4 separate regions of the Homo sapiens genome follow, and all the other regions are linked to region 4. Evidence: fine-mapped expression QTL. A gene starts in region 4. Each other region holds a variant in brackets. All regions are shown on one strand. Distances are from middle to middle.

Evidence for each region. PIP is the estimated chance that this variant, and not a neighbour inherited with it, causes the effect.
Region 1: its variant is the best candidate, but not a certain one, in a credible set for the expression of CD44 in whole blood (TOPMed, PIP 0.63).
Region 2: its variant is the best candidate, but not a certain one, in a credible set for the expression of CD44 in tibial artery (GTEx, PIP 0.58).
Region 3: its variant is the best candidate, but not a certain one, in a credible set for the expression of CD44 in whole blood (INTERVAL, PIP 0.71).

Annotation. Positions count from the first base shown.
Region 1 is chr11:35,226,967-35,231,269 of GRCh38, reverse strand. CD44 (CD44 molecule (IN blood group)) reads right to left here. Exons shown (of 18, transcript NM_000610.4): 18 at 1-2,141. The coding sequence ends at 1,937. Among named protein-coding and RNA genes, the nearest start is that of CD44-AS1, 14 kb to the right of the region's middle. The variant T/A (reference allele first, on the strand shown) is at 2,299.
Region 2 is chr11:35,068,719-35,073,021 of GRCh38, reverse strand. No RefSeq gene overlaps it. Among named protein-coding and RNA genes, the nearest start is that of CD44-DT, 67 kb to the left of the region's middle. The variant A/G (reference allele first, on the strand shown) is at 1,618.
Region 3 is chr11:35,014,399-35,018,701 of GRCh38, reverse strand. It overlaps LOC105376626 (a long non-coding RNA gene), which reads left to right. Exons shown (of 4, transcript XR_001748180.2): 4 at 532-4,303. Among named protein-coding and RNA genes, the nearest start is that of MIR1343, 75 kb to the right of the region's middle. The variant G/A (reference allele first, on the strand shown) is at 1,657.
Region 4 is chr11:35,136,677-35,140,979 of GRCh38, reverse strand. It overlaps CD44 (CD44 molecule (IN blood group)), which reads right to left and starts at 1,809. Exons shown (of 18, transcript NM_000610.4): 1 at 1,610-1,809. The coding sequence starts at 1,676. It overlaps CD44-DT (CD44 divergent transcript), which reads left to right and starts at 2,948. Exons shown (of 3, transcript NR_120528.1): 1 at 2,948-3,282. RefSeq lists enhancers at 412-912, 2,080-2,644 and a silencer at 2,100-2,169.

The DNA of each region.
Region 1 (4,303 bases), 90 kb before region 4:
AATCTCTGGGAAAACAAGAGGCACTTGAACACTAGTGGCAGTAACAACACATAGTGGCCTAATGTCCAGTTTCTTTCAAGTTGAAAAGAAAATAAAAAGAAATCCAGACCACTGAAAATGGATCTGGCCAATGATGTTCACAGAAGAGAAAGGAAGTTTTTCAAGATTGTGGGGTGAAGTGGAGGGAGAGAGGGAGGGGAGAGGGTAGACAGGGAGGAGCAGAGGCTGGGAATAGTGCAGAAAGTTGACATCTCTCCTTTAAAGATATTCTACAGATCAACTCTGTCTAAGCCCAGCCCTGATTTAGTCAGGAGCTTTTCTTCTTCTTTCTGCTTTGTGGTCTGAGAAGCATTGCCTGTTAAGCACATAAGTTTAGGTAACAAATGACTTTTAGTAGGAGCCTCAGAAAGGAGATACCATTTAACAGGAGCCGTTGCTTTATAGATGCAATGGCTTCTATGACAAGCAGCCTTTGGAAGTTCTAGGACCAATCGGACACCCTGACTGATGAATAAATGCCACAAAGGACTTGCCAAGTGGGAGAAAATATGAGGTTAGAGGATAAAGCCAGTACTCTCTTGTTTGGTCATAAACTTGCCTATCTGGTGATAAGATTCCAATGATGGGAATCCCTTTAACCTTTTGAGGGACTCCCCAGGCACTTAACTCATCCTAAATAGCAACTGCATCAAGAACAGACACTGGTGTGTTTAAGTTTACAAATACAGCCATAAAAATGTCAAACAGGATCTACATGGCATCATCCTTCCCCTTTGCCAATCTCTTTCATTTCCATTGGCTTCTTCTCTTATTGTAAGACATCAAAAGGCACTTCCATATTGTTTTTGGAAATCACTAATAGGGCCAGCCTCTATGAAATAGGGCCCCAGGGATAACAGGTCATGCAAACTTAATGTGACTTTGCAAAGCCTTTCACAGGAGAGAACAGGTGGCCATTAAACCATAAAAGAGGCTGAAGCTCCTCAGCTTCCAACTCTGATTCCAGGACAGGATGGAAAACCTTTGGACAGTGTCAAAAAAAAAAAACAAAAAACAAAAAACAAAAACAGTGCTGCCCTCCTTGGTCTTCCATGAGATTTGGCTGAGTGGGTCTGAGTGGGAACTCAGGGTCTCTGAGATGAAGACTTAGAAGAGTCTCCTTACCATTCTCAGCTCTTCCTGATACATTGTAGGGACCCAGACAGTGCTGGTTTAGAAACTGAAGAATCACAGCACAAAAGGTGAAGATCGAAGAAGTACAGATATTTATTATGAATCAGTTTAAACCCTTTTGTGCCTCTGACAAAGTAACTTTAAAAAATTATACTGATCAAAGGACTGATCCAGGGTTTAATATTTCAAAAACACAGATAAATAGTTTACTACAGATAAATAGCTTCACCCTTTGGGTGTCTCCCAGAAGCATCTGAAAAATTTCTAGAGGGGGTCTGTTGAAGATGTGTAACTAGTACACCCCAACCCCCAACCTCAGTGGAAAGCAATGCCCAGGGATTAGGCTATGGAAGGGCAAAATGGACCCATTCAAATTTCCTCCCAGGGACCAGGCCCTATTAACCCTGGGAAATGTCCTTAGCTGGTGGGGGAAAGGTTGGCGATCAGGAATACATATGTGTAGTTTTTGTTAGAAGCCATCCATAGCACACCCGAGGGATGAAAGGCCTCCAAGTGGGAACTGGAACGATCAAATTCTTGCTGATTATTAATTGGGCCCTAATTTCAGAAAGCAATGCTGTTTTTACAAATTGGACCTGACTTTAAAGAACAAAACACAAAAAACAAAAAGAGTAGAAAATTTTATGCTAAAAAAGATTCGCAATGAAACAATCAGTAGCACATTGCATCTGTTAAGTGTCCCAGCTCCCTGTAATGGTTATGTTTCCAACGGTTGTTTCTTTCCAAGATAATGGTGTAGGTGTTACACCCCAATCTTCATGTCCACATTCTGCAGGTTCCTTGTCTCATCAGCTGTCATAAACTGGTCTGGAGTTTCTGACGACTCCTTGTTCACCAAATGCACCATTTCCTGAGACTTGCTGGCCTCTCCGTTGAGTCCACTTGGCTTTCTGTCCTCCACAGCTCCATTGCCACTGTTGATCACTAGCTTTTTCTTCTGCCCACACCTAATAATTTAAAAAATGTACCATATCAGAAAGATTGCAGTGACTCAGGCATCAGATCATCATCCTTACTGAGCACCATCATTGATGATCACTATGGTTTATGATGGCTTTAGTGTGTGCCAAGCACTGTGCTAGGGGTTTTCTCTACTTTAACAAC[T/A]AACAACCAGCACTTAACAACCAGACTCATAACAACCAGCACTCCTCAAAGTGAGGTCCCTGGACCAGCAGCAAAAGCATCATCTTGGAACCTGTTAGAAATACAAATTCTCAGCCCCACCCCAAACCTGCTGAATCAGAAAACTCTAGAGTTGGAGCCCAGGATCTGTGGCTTCTCTGCACAGTCAAATTTGCAACCCCTCAGGGGCTTCTCTGCACAGTCAAGTTTGCAAACCAGCAACTAAGACTCCAGGAAGCCGGTGTTATTATTATATTCTCTATATTCCAAGTGAAGAAACCTTGGGGATCAGAAAATTCAGTAACTTCCCCCAAGTAACTCAGCAAGTAAGAAAGAGGATTCAAACCCTGGTCTGTCTGACTCTCAAGTTCTGATTCTCTTTCTATCTTACTTCACAATGGAAATGTTTGCCTCTTTTAAGCATTTTAGCAGTTTCTGCAGATTTAGATAAACCATCAACATGATGATTGTAAATCATTCTGATTTGTATATTCCAGAAAGTCCCATAACTTCCTCTCCCAGTCAACACTTTGTCGGCCTTGTCAGCATTATTACTGAATGTATCGAGAAGAATAAAACAACATTTTTCTAGAGGTATAAGGCCATAGTGATGTTTTCCTAACATTGGCTAACTCATACAACCCTGATATAGGAAGTTTAATAACATAAGACAAATTATTCTCGTTAATTTAAGGTTTCTCAAACATTACTTAAGACCCAAACGCAAAAGAAAGTTGCTATGGAAGAGTACGACCTTGATCTTTTCCCTGGTTACTGTCCATTGCTTCACCCCACCCAGCCTAATGCAATGCTTCCTCTTTCCTGTAACATATCACTACTACACATATACGAGTCAGACTATGCTTAGAGGAAGGAAAGTTGCATAGCTTCACAACTACAAGCAAGATGGGGATTCAGGGAAGCAGATTACCTCCTGAATACCAGACATTTTACATGTAATTTTCTGTAATTCTTACAACACTCTTTCAAAGCAGCTATTGTTCCCATAATACAGCAATGGAAACTGAGGCCAAAAGAGGTTTAATAACTTGCTCGAGGTCACACAGAAAGTAAGAATGACAGAGCCAATATTCAAATCCAGGCCTTTATGACCAAAGCCTGGGCTCTGCCTGGCTCTGTCAATGCTGCCAGCCCTCTGGAGATTTGGAAACAGTATGAAGTCAGAATTGTTCACTTTGCCTCTGGATATTTGGAGTAATAGTGACAAAGCCTCTATTATTCATGATCATGGACCATTCCCTGTAGGACTGCCAAGGCCATAAACTTTAAGCTCTTGTTTGGGGAAATAAAAATTATACCTCCTCAACAGGAGGTAGATCCTGTCTCCTCTAGCATAAGGCTTGATGAGGGGTTGGGGGAAGGATGCTTGAACTGTGAAACAGATTCATGGGGACCAGGAATACAGATGGAGTCCAGCAGGATGCATGGTCAAGAAAAGGGCCTTGGAGGCCAGGTGCAGTGGTTCACTCCTGTAATCCCAGCACTTTGGGAGGCCAAGGCGGGTGGATCACTTGAGCCCAGGAGATTGTGACCAGCCTGGGCAACATGGTAAAACCCAGTCTGTATTCAAAATACAAAGATAAGCCGGCTGTGGTGGCATGTGCCTGTAGTCTTAGTTACTTTGGGGGCTGAGGTGGGAGAATTACTTGAGCCCAGGAAGTCGAGGCTGCAGTGAGCTGTGTTTGTGCCACTGCATTCCAGCCTGGGTGACAGAGTGAGACCCTGTTTCAAAAAAGAAAAAGAGACCAGGCACAATGGCTCATGCCTGTAATCCCAACACTTGGGAGGCTGAGGCAGAAGGATCACTTGAGGTCAGGAGTTCGAGACCAGCTGGCCAACATGGTGAAACCCCATCTCTACCAAAAATACAAAAATTAGCCGGTCATGGGGGCATGGTGGTGCGTGGCTGAATCCCAACTACTCAGGAGACTGAAGCAGGAGAATTGCTTGAACCTGGGAGGTGGAG
Region 2 (4,303 bases), 68 kb after region 4:
TTGTAAAATAATCTTGTCTGTATTTATAATATATCTTGCAGGGTCTTTGATAGGAATTGGGTTAAACCTGTATGTCAATTTGAGGATAACAGACATCTTTACCATGTTAAGTTTTCTGATGCATGAACACAATATATGTCTGTCCATTTATTTAAGTCTTCTTTAATTTCTTTCACCAGGCTTTTGTAGTTCTCAGCATATACTTCTTGCAAACATTTTGTTGGATTTATACCTAAGTACTTTACTTCTTTTTAGCAATTGTAAATGATATTGTATAGTTACATTTTATATCCACATGCCCATTGCTAGTTTGTAGAGATAAAATTGTCTTTTCTTTTTCTTTTCTTACCTTCTTTTTTTTTTTTGAGACAAGGTCTCGATCTCACCCAGGCTGGAGTCGCAGTGGCACAATTTCAGCTCACTGAAACCTCTGCAACCTCTACCTCCTAGGCTCAAGTGATCCTCCCACTCAGTCTCCAGAGTAGCTGGGACCACAGACGCTTGCAGCCACACCTGGCTATTTTTGTAGAGATGGGATTTCACTATATTGCCCAGGCTGGTCTCAAACTCCTGAGCTCAAAGCCTTCTGCCCACCTTGGCCTCCCAGAGTGCTGGGATTACATGTGTGAGCCACCATGCCCAGCCAAAATGGCCTTTCTATGTTTATCCTGTATCCTGTAACCTTGTTGAACTCATCTTTCAGTTCTAGGAAGTTTTTGTAGATTCCCTCGCATTTTCTACATATACATTCATGTCATAAGGACGATTTTACTTCTTCCTTTCCAATACATAGGCCTTCTATTTCTGTTTTTTGGGGTTTTTTTGTTTGTTTGTTTTTGCCTTAATGCACTCACTAGAACTTACAGTACAATGTTGACTAAAGATGATGTTGAATAAGGGTGGACATCCTTGCCTCTTTCCCAATCTTAGGGGTAAAGCATTCAGTCTTTCACTATTAAGTACAATGGAAGCTGCAGGTATTTTGTAGCTACTCTTTATCAAGTTGAAGAAGTTTCCCTCTCTTTGTATTTTTCTGACAGCATCATGAATGGGTATTAAATTTTATCAAATACTTTTTCTGCATGATTTTAATATGATCACGTGATTTTTCCTTTTTAACCTGTTAATATGATAGACTACATAGATTTTCAAATACTGAAACAGCTTTGCATCTGTGGAATAAATCCCATGTGGTCTAATCTATAATTCTTTTTACATACTGTGAATTCTATTTGCCAATATTTTGGTAAGGGTTTTTGTATTTATATATATGAGAGATATTGGTCTGCAGCTTCTTTGTTTGAGCTGTCTTTCTCTTGTTTTGGATCAGGGTAACACTAGCTTCAGAAAATGAATTAGAATGTGTCCTCCCACCTCACTTTTTCTATTTTATGGAAGCTATTGTTATTCTTTTTCAAATGTTTGTTAGGGTTCTTCAGTGAAATCATCATCAATGTGTGAAAATTTCTTTGAGAGGAACAGTTTTTATTTTAATTACTAATTCAATTTCCTTAATATTTATAGTGCTATTAAATTATCCATTTCATATTGGATAGTTGTGGTAGTTTGTGTTTTTTGAGAATTTGGTCCATTTCATTGAAGTTGTTCAATTTATAT[A/G]TGTAGATTTGTTCATAGTATTTCCTTATTGTCTTATTTATTTATTTATTTTGAGATGGAGTCTTGCACTGTTGCCCAGGCAGGAATGCAGTGGCGTGATCTTAGCTCACTGCAAGCTCTGCCTCCCGGGTTCACGCCATTCTCCTGCCTCAGCCTCCCGAGTAGCTGGGACTACAGGCGCCTGCCACCACACCCAGCTCATTTTTTGTATTTTTAGTAGAGATGGGGTTTCATCATGTTAGCCAGGATGATCTTGATCTCCTGACCTTGTGATCTGCCTGCCTCGGCCTCCCAAAGCGCTGGGATTACAGGCGTGAGCCACCGTACCTGGCCCCTTATTGTCTTTTTAAGTCTGCAGGTTTTATAAAGATTTCTCTTGTTTCATCCCTGATACCAGTCATTTGTGTCTTCTCTATTTTTTTCTTTATCAGTTCTACTAGAAGTTTGTCTATTTTATTGATCTTTTCAAAGAACAAACTGTTTCAGTGATTTTCTCTATTGTTTTCTGTTTTCCTCTTCATTAATTTATGCTCTTTATTATTTCCTTCTTTCTGCTTGCATTGTATTTATTTTTGTTCTTTTTTATTGAGATGTGAGTTTAGATGACTGATTTGAGGACATTTCTCTTTTCTAATGTATGCTTTTAGTGCTATAAATTTCCCTCTCAGTACTGCTTTGGCTGTGTCCCACAAATTTTGATACTTTTTATTTTCATTTTCATTCAGGTAGGTGAACAGTTTTTTAAAAATTCTCTTGAGCCGTCCTTTTTGATCCTCTTTCTAAATAACCAAGTTTATTTAAAAGCTTGTTATTTAGTTTTCAAGTGTTTGGAGAATTTTCTGTAACTTTCTATTGTTTTTAATTTCATTCCATTTGGGCTAGAGAACACACTCAGTATGATTTCAACTCTTTTTAATTTGCTAAATTTTGGAGGTTTTTTTGTTTGTTTGCTTTGTTTTTATACACTAGGATATGGCTTATCTGGCGATATATTCTGTAAACACTTGAAAAGAATTTGTATTCTGCTGATGTTTGGTAGAGGGCACTATAAATGTCAGTTCCATCCTAATGGTTGATGATGTTGAGTTCTGTTGAGTTCTTCTATATCCTTGCCAATTTTTTGTCTAAGTAGTCTATCAATTGTTAAGAAAGGAATATTGCAGTATTCAACTATAATTGTGAATTTGTTTCTTTTTTTTAAATTCTATCAGGTTGGGTAATTTTTATTATTCCCTCTTCTAGTTCACTGATTATTTCCTCTTTCCTCTTTATTCTGCTGTTTAGCTCATCCACTGAGTTTTTACATCAATTATTGTATTTTTCAGTTCTAGAATTTCCATTTATTAACTTATTCCTTCTATTTCTTTGCTGAGACTTTCTATTACTTTCCTGAGACATTCTAGTTTTACATTTTTTCCAAGTATGTTACTAATTGCCCCTTGAAGCATTTTTATGAGGGCTACTGTAAAATAATTGTAGATAATTCTAACATGTCTATCATCTTGATAAGGGAATCTATTGTCTGTTTTTGTCTTGTTCCATTTGAGATCCTGGTATGACGAGTGATTTTTAAATTAAAACCTGAACATTTGTGGTGTTATAAGACTCCGGATTTTATTTAAACCTCTGTTTTCACTGGCTTCCTCTGACATTGCTCTGGCAAGGGAAAGAGGATCACCCCTCATTACTGCCATGTGGGGACAGACGTTCATGTTCCACATTTAACCTCTATGGACACTCAAGGAAGCTCCTCATTACTGCTGGATGGGGGTCAGTGTTTTAGCTCCCCAGTAGGGCTCCACTCATACCTCCCTGGCTGGAAGGAGTATGAATGCCTTATTACCGCATCTCCCATGGCCTCCACTGATGCCATGGGGAGAGTCACACTACTGCTGTGACAAAGGTCCTGACCCTGCACTAGGCATCCTCTGACATGACACTATTTGGGGAAAGAGGGAGGGAGAGGCACCTCTTCACTGCTGGGTGGAGGTAAAACTCCAGGCTCCCACATAGTCTCCACTGATACTGTGGTGTGGATACTTCTTCTCGCCAGGCAGGAATAAAGTCCTGATTTTCTATTCAGCATTTTCTGACACCACCCTGGAGGAATGGTGGAGGTAAGAAATAGTGTTGCGGCCCTTATTACGGCCTAATTAGGGTAGAAATCTAGAGTCCCCATTAGGCCTTTCCTGGTATGACTGGAGATGGGGCTACAGTGTTTTTCTTGTTGTTGTTGTTTTGTTTTTCCCTGTTGTGTCTGACTGGAGTAGAGTGGTTCTGGTCTAAAGGTCCTCTGTCTTGCTGGGCTACTCATTTCCTGTTCCTTGGCTAAAGAGAACAGTCTTTTGTTGTGGCTTTTTTTGTCTGTGCCCATTGGCATTTCTAGGTTATCATCTTCCTTATTCCCAAGTCTGGAATAGCTGCGGCAAAAAGAAAGCCCAGGAACCCAGAGAACTCACCATTGTTTTGTTCCATGGTCCCTAAGTCCCCAGCCAATCTACATTCTTCTCTTCCCTTTAAAGCCTTTCTACCTTTGTTTTATATATAATGTCCAAAGTTTTCCATTGTACTTAGAGGGAAAAAATAGGAAAACATGTATCTACTACATCTTCTTTGAAGCAGAATCACTCATTTGGTTTTTAGGGAGTTATTCTCAAATTTTATTGTGAAAAATAGTATGTTCCAG
Region 3 (4,303 bases), 120 kb after region 4:
ACTAAGAAAGTGATTACAAAACAAGAATAATTTCTGATTATATTATTTTAATGGTCATATAGCCAATATATAGGCGTTTAAATTTTATTACATTAATGTACAAGGATATATAATTTGGCTTATTAGAAATTATTTTTGAAAATATTTTAATACGATAGTTTTTGTCATTACACTAATATAACAAAATCTTTCTCATTTGACAAATATTTCAAAAATATATAACAAATTATTTTAGCATTCCTTCTCCTCTCAAAAGCATGCTGTCACTCTGTTTTTGAAGACAGTTAAAAGAATTCCATTTCTGAACACTGTTAAGAAAAGTGGGGGAGTCCCAGCAGAGTTTTGGGCAAAGGCAATGGAATAAACATGGCATTTCTGAAAAGAGACACTTGCAAAGGCCCAACACTCGCAAAGCATACCAGGCATAATGTAAATAGGAAAAAGAAACTATTCCGTTGATTCAGTTCATTTGTAAAAGGAGTTTTCCCAAGGTAGATCACAAACAAACCAGTCCATGTGAATCACTTGCAGAGCTTTGAACCCTGAACCCAGCATTCTGAGAGTGGGAACCAGAAATGTGCATTTGAAAAGACTCCCCAGGCAATTCTGATGAGGAGCCAGTGAGCCTGCTGAACCAGGTGACTACTGACATCTCTTCTTTGAGTGACTTTCGACCATCCCACAAATGTCTGCTCGACGGTGTCCTGGAAGAGCTGGGTCATGGCTCTCATTACACACTACTCAGCATCATACACCAGGTTGTATCACACATCTCATTCACACTACTGAGCATCATACACCAGGCTGTATCACACTTTGTCCGGACTTCATGAGTCTTCCAGTACAGTGATGGGACGTAGGTTTTCTAGACTTGCCTATGGGCTTCTCCTCTTTCCTAATGAAGCTTCCACTCATCCAAACGTCCTTTGAGGAGGAAATTTATCCAACTCACTCCACTGCAAAAGCTGGAGAACTGACAAGATTCTTCCTGACCACTTCAGTGGCTATGATTATAGGCAGTATTGTGGTTTTCATTTGCAAAATGAGGAATAAAGCTGCAGACATTTCCAGTACTAGAAATGGTCTGTTTGTAGCATGAAGGTGCATATTCATTTCTTTTTCTTTTTTCCTGACCCTTAATCATTTATTACATTTTTCTCCTGTTAAACAAGCTATATAGGCTGAATACAAAGAAGTTTGAAAACACAGAAAGGTAAAAAAATTAAATTAAATTAAGATCATCTGAAATGTTAACTTCAAGAGAAAGTTAACAACTGTGAGCATTCTGGTTTGTATATTCTTGCAGTCTTATTTAATTAATTGCATTTATGTACTTTAAAAAAAGTAGAATTATATTGTATATATGGCTTTGATTTCTTAAAAATTAACATTGTGAACATGTGCAAGGAGTGTTTCTTAAATTGCTCTTTCCATTGTCACTTTTACTGGAGATTAAAGTCTCAAAGTACATTTTTTGACTTAGCAGAGGGAGAGCTGAGATGTCTCATTAAAGCTTGGCCGAGCGCCTTCTGTTACTGCTTATTTACATAAGTAGCTTTCCTAAAATCAACGGCTCCCATGAACAAGACATATATATTAATGCCTCACAGTCCAATATATGATGAGATAAATGACCACTGCTTCCTTATATAATGC[G/A]CACACACTTGCCTGAGACAAGTCAGCTGTTCTGAAACACAAGATTAGGAAATTCAATTTCATGTATACATTTCCATGAATCAAAAGTCAAAATCAAAGGACAACCTTCTGTGTTACAGTGAACTCTGGAAGTAAGTGTAAATAAGATAATAAGATATGCCCTACTTTGTTGTCATCTTTTTTTTTTTTTTTGCTTTTTGTTTTTTGTTTGTTTTGAGATGGAGTCTCACTCCGTCACCCAGGCTGGAGTGAAGTGGTGCAATCTCGGCCCACTGCAACCTCCACCTCCTGGGTTCAAGCAATTCTCATGCCTCAGCCTCCCAAGTAGCTGTGATTACAGGCGTGTGCCACCACGCCTAGCTAATTTTTTGTATTTTTACTAGAGACAGGGTTTCACCATGTTGGCCAGGCTGGTCTTGAACTCTTAACCTCAGGTGATCTGCCTGCTTCAGCCTCCCAAAGTGCTGAGATTACAGGTGTGAGCCACTACACCTGGCCAGCTATGCCCCACTTTGAACAAACATTGCTAGAATCTGGAAGAATCTTCTGTTAGCCAAGGATTGCTTTTGAGGTTCACTCCAAAAACTGAGCTACCACCGGGGACAAATGGTCTCATAATTTTGAGTGTGTAAAGTGCAGCGATTCCAGCTCATGAGCACTAATATAATTTTGGAAACAATATACCCACAACAGGCATCGTCTAGAAAACTAACAGGATCTCTTTTCCACTAGAGTGTATTGTTGTTGACTAAGTGTTTTCAGTTATTAAGCTGGAAGAGACATGCTGGGGAGAATGCTTTGGAGGAACAAGTAAGCACAGAACACAGAGAATCAGGTAACTTATTATTTCTCACCTTTCTCTTTCCTTTGTAGATAATTAGCAAACATTCCTTTCTCCACCTTATCTCTTTGTTGAGGTCATATCAGCAATTATCTGCCCTCTGGTTTATGCAAAACTACCTGAATAAGTCATAATTCAGAAGAGCTTATCAACTTTCTTCCATGTCCCGTTGCCCAAAAATAATCAGCAATGAAATATCTCAAACATACAGAAAAATAGAAGTAAACAAAACCACCTAGATTTATGAGCAGTTCACTCTCTATCTACATGCTTAATATATTTTTAATAAAGTCTTCAGTCATCACTGCCACATTTACAAGAATACTTGGCCTTTTGGCTTGTCTTCTGAACATATTTTTGCATGTAAGCCTTTTACATATTTCTCTGAAGTGGTTCGAAATCCATCAGCTCGATGGTCTTTATTGTTTCAATATGGCCCAATCCACAGGGCAGAGCATATGACTGGTGTGGTGGTTGCTGCGTGGCTTTGAAGTCACACGGATTTGAGTTCCAGTCCCTGCCTACTAGCTGAGCAAATGTGGTCAAGGGTCTGTGACTGAAATTCTCATTGATAAAGCAGGGATAATAATACCTACCTTGTTGTCGAGATGTCATGAGGTGATGTAAGCAAAGCATCAGAACAGTACCTAGCACATAGTAAGTGGTTATCATCAGCTTGTGTGTCTGCTGTATATGCTGAACTGCTTGAGTCCATCTCCAATTGAAGCTGTATTTACCAGGATCCACTCAACCACTACCTTGATCATTAACACCTCCTTATTTGTGGACTCATGAATACAAGGCACTTGCATCTGCGGGGCTTCAAACTTAGCCCAGTGAAATGGCAGTCTTTTTTAGTTTTCTAAACACCTGGAGGTGACTTTTTCCCTGCCTCTGACTTTAAAAACATAATGAAATTTTACAGAGTTTTATAGCACTGAACTTTATGTAAAATCAAAAGAGCCCGTGAAATAAGAGAGCAATTGGTTGTAAGCAAGCCCCTTCATGAACATGGGCATTTTTTTTTTAACGTCTTTGTATCTGTGAGCATCTCCTTCTCTTCCTATCCTTAAGTGTATTATTTGTCATGAAAGCAAAGTGCTTTTAAAAAATTGTGTTTGATTCCATGGTTCCCAACAATGGCTGGACTTCAAACTCACCTGTGGTGCTTAAGATTATATATCTGTATACTTTTGTTTAAAATGAATATTATAAAAATTTATGTTTAAAAATATGTGTGTATATACATACATAGTTACATACACCCAAGGCACATATGTGCATGTGTATACATAACATATACACATACATACATACACGCACACCACCACCAAAGCCCCACTAAAAAAATACTGGAATCTCTGGGAGTAATGGGGGCAAATAGGAGGAGTTAATGTTCAGGTAAGGCTATTATGGACCCATTGTTGAGAATCACAGTGGGTTAATTACTTGAAACAGTACCTATCTAAAGGACAGTTAAAGATTTTGGTATTAACCAGAAAGTCTTTTTTTTTTTTTTCTTAAATAATTTTGCAGGCAAGATGCTGCTGTTACAAGTTTTCTGTTCTGAATTATGTCTTCCATAGGAATGAAGCATCCACACAGTCCATCCAAGCATACTGTGAATCAAAACACATGTCATAGCTGGAACGAAAGCATTAGGACCATCTAACTGGATTCCACTGGAATGAGTCTCTGTGAAACCATGCCGAAGTCTTTGTAAACAACCACCCTAAAGAAAGCTACATGAAGAATAGCCAATAACAAAAGCACTGGATTTAACTCAATTTTGTGAAAAAACAAAAA
Region 4 (4,303 bases):
GCATAATCTTGGTTCACTGCAACCTTCACCTCCTAGGTTCAAGCAATTCTCCTGCCTCAGCGTCCCAAGCAGCTGGGACTACAGGTGTGCACCACCACACCCTGCTAATTTTTGTATTTTTTGTAAAGATGGGGTTTCACCATGTTGGCCAAGGCTGGTCTCAAACTCCTGACCTTGGGTAATTTGCTGCCTCAGCCTCCCAAAGTCCTAGGATTACAGGCATGGGCCACCATGACAGGCTGTGTTGTTGCTATCATTATTATTATTATTTCAGCTTCAGTAGTATAAATCCTAGATCCCCAAATCCCCACCTAGCAAAGACCTCTCACTCACACAGAAAGGGAGATGCATATGCACAGAGAACTCATCCTGCCTAGCCTCCACCTAGGGTCACTTTCTTCCTACTGCAGAAAGTAGGAAGATAGAGAAAGCAGAAAGTAATTCAAGATACTTTATACTGGGTACTCAATCTAAACTACCTGGGTGAGACTGTGTGTTTCAATTTCTCAGTACTCCCGTGGAACTGGGTTAATAAATATTTGCTGAGTAGAATTTACTGCATGCAGGCTGAGCTGTCTTAATGACCCAGCTGGCACTTCTTAAAAGAAAGATTAATTTTGGCCAGCGATAAGCAAATCGGCCATGTAATTATCTGTACATACATAGACAAAGAAAGAGAATGCTTGGAGTTGAGCCGTGCTAGAATATACCTTACACGCAGCCCCTCCCCTCCATAGCCACCACAAAGCACTGACCCTGTTTGGATGAGATATTGGAGCCCTAGCTCCAGGGTCCCTGATGTTGCCCTGGTATCAAGGCTCTTCTCTCTGCTCTGAGGCTGCCAGGCAGGGAATATAAGCCACCTTACTGTTGAGATTTCCCCACACTGATTGGCAGAAGCAGGAGGTGGTGAGGACCAAGCAGCTGGTCCAGTGGTTGCCTCTCATATTCATGCTCCCTATCCCAGGCTGGAATCTCATGGAGACCCAAGACCTCACCGCAGAGCTGGTTCAAGCTTCCACAGCGCTAAGGTGGCAGTGACACTGCGGACTGTAAGCTTTGGAACAAGGCTCAGTGGGGAGCTGGGAGAACCCAGGACCCCTTTCTGGAAAACCCATTGCCAGCTAGTCTCACACTTGGAATTGTGATCCCTTCTGTGACCACCTTGATAACAGCCACTCGCCCTGTTCCAGCCCCAGTCTCTGCCCCGCCCAGCTCTGCCCTGCCTAGACACAGCCCGGTGGGGCTTGGCGAGCCCTTGGGCACAGGAGCCTGTTAGTCCAGACAACGACTGTGCGCATCCGGGAGAACGGTTACTTTCTGCCATGTGCTGCAGCTCTAGCGACCTCGCCCAAAACTGCGCGCCGGCAGCCTGCCCAACAAACTTTCTTCTCTTTCTCTTTTTCTTTCAACCAAATGGTGCTTCCACAGACACATTCTCCAACGGTTTAGCGCAAATCCCAGCCCTGCTTTCCGGAGCCCAATGCACTTCGCAGACAGCTCACTTGACTCCAGTCCCCCAGGGCCGACTCAGCCGGAGGGGCTGCCGCCGGGTCCGCGCTGAGCACCCCGCACCCATCTTGCTGCCCAGGCTGCGGCGGGCACTCACCGATCTGCGCCAGGCTCAGCGGCACGAGGCAGAGTCCCCAGGCTGCGTGCCACCAAAACTTGTCCATGGTGTCCGGAGCGAACGGAGGGCGCGGGCGAAAGGAGCTGGAGGATCCCTGGGCGCGGGGCAGGGGCCGGCGGAGGACGGGACGAGGATGGCGGACCGAACCTGGCAGAGGCTGGGGTCCGCTGGGCAATGAGGCTGCCTCGGAAGTTGGCTGCAGTTTTTATTCGAGGTTGAAAACAGTGACCTAAGACGGAGGGAGGGAGCGAGCGAAGGACACACCCAAGCAAGGGGGGCTGTGACTAAGCAGCCCGCAGAGGTTTTAAGAAGTAGCAGCCCTCCCGGGCGGGCCCCTCTGCCCCCGCCCCGTGCTCTGCTGAGGCTGTAAATAATCGGGGCTGCCAGGGACGTGGGTCGGGGAACCTGGAGTGTCGCGGGGTGCCTGTGCCTCCGAGCCCCACTGGCCCCTGCGCCCAGAGACGCACTGGCTTTCTTCTCCCGCTGGCCCCGCGGCGTCAGGACAGAGGATGACCGAACCGTAAAACCTTGCACCATTGGGTTCAGCCTTTGGCCTCTCCTTTCCCGCTAAATTTCTCTGAATCCGGCTGGAGCAAGATCTCTGGGTTTCACAGGATGTTGGATATCCTGGGAGAGGAGCTGGAGAGAGGGCGAGGTCTTGCCCTGGGTGGCGCAGTGCCTCCGTGCCCACAGTGGGGAGTGAGGGGTGGGGAGTTGGTGAATCTTCCAAGTGGAAAGAGGGAGAGCTCATTCTTTTTCCCCTCAATAACAAGTCCACATGGCTTGAATGAATTTTAGCTTCTTGGCAGAACAGCTCAGGGAAAGCTACTGATGGCCTGTCATAGGGCTGGCATTTGGCTCAGCTAACCCATGTGTTCAAGCCAGTGTGAATGGGCACCTCTCTCCACACACATGCTCATTCATCCTCCTAAATATCCTTCCATCCGCCCATCCATCTATCCACCCATCTTTCCTTATGTCCTTCTGGGGCTCTCACATCCATCCATCCTCCTGTCCATCCACTAACCACTTAGGTCCATCTATCATCCCACTCATTCATTCATCCAACCACACACCTTTTAATTTATTCAACCACCTATTCTTCTATTCATCTTCCCATACAACTTCTCATCCATCATTCCACACTTCCTTTTTCACATCTCTTCATAAAACCACAACCATCCACCATCCTCTTCTCCACCCATCCACCCACATATCTGTTTATTGATATATCCACTCATTTCCCATCTGTCCAAGATCAACATATCCACCTATCATTTTATCCATTCTCTCATCCACCCATACGTTCATCTATTATTTTTGCCCCCATTATCCTCCTTTCTGTGTAAACATTAATTCATTTTCTCCCATCTTTCCTACCCAGCAGATCTTAAAGAGAGGAAGAGTTTGTAATATTCTTCAGGGGAAGCCTTTTGAGATTGAAATATCATACTTTGAATGATAACTCTATATCTATCTATAATATACTATGGTTTAATGTTTGGAAATCAAACGCAGTATTTATTTGTCATGTGAACTACTAAAAGTAAATCTGCATGGACTTCTTGCCTGGTGAGTTACACAGAAAATGAAAGTGATTATCAGTGGCTGTGGCAAGATGAAAGGAACCATGCCAGGACTTCTGAGGGAAGGTAAGATTTTGTTATTTATTTCAAGAAATTGAAAAGTTGAGAGAAATGCACCCAGCCATCCCCCTATGCATTCATTCATCAGACATGTAATGAGTGTTGTGGGGTATCGAGGTAAATAAGACCTGGCGCTATCTTCAGAGCCCTCACCCTCTGGTACGGAATAAAACTCACAAGCAGGCCATTACCATGCAAGGTGAAATATGCTGCAAAATGTGTGTGTTTGGGGTGCTACCATTCCTAGAGAAGGGAGTCACACTCTCTCCTGGAGAACACCAGGCAGTCTTCACAGGGGAAGTGATATTTGAGGCAGGCCTCAAAGGAAAAGGAGGAGGAATTCTTCAGATGAAACTACAGGGACAAGTAAGTCATCCACAGGCAGTACAGTGTAGTGACGAACAGCATGGATTCAGGAGCTAGAACACCTAGATCCAAACCCTATTATGGCTGCTTCTTAGTTGTGTGACCTTGCCTAAGGCAATTAGCTCAATTTGCTCAAGTATAAAATGGGCTTAATAATAGTATCTATTATTACTATTACAATTCTATTACTTCATAGAATTGGTGAGGATTAAATGACTCAAAAGCCCTGCATGTATTAAGCCGTAGATTTATGTCTACATATGCATGCAGTAAGCACTTTAAATAAGTGTTTGCTATCATTACTAAAAGCAAAATTGTGTTTGAGCATAGAAAAGTGAAAGAACATGGCTTGTCCAGAGAATAGAGAGCAATGTGAGCTGATCTGAACATAGATCAGATGAAGGGGCTGGGGGAAGATAGCAGACATGAGGTTACAGGTATGGGGACTACAAGGTGTAAGCTATGCCAGGGAGTTTGAACTTGACCCTGTAGGAAATAAGGAGGCAACGTACTTAGTTAAAATTATTATCATTGTTATGTTAAAATATGCATAACATAAAATTTACCATTTCACCCATTTAAAAGTGTTTATAGCAGTGACGTGTAGTACTTTAACAATATTGTGCAACCACTACCACTGTCTAGTCCGGTATAAATTTTT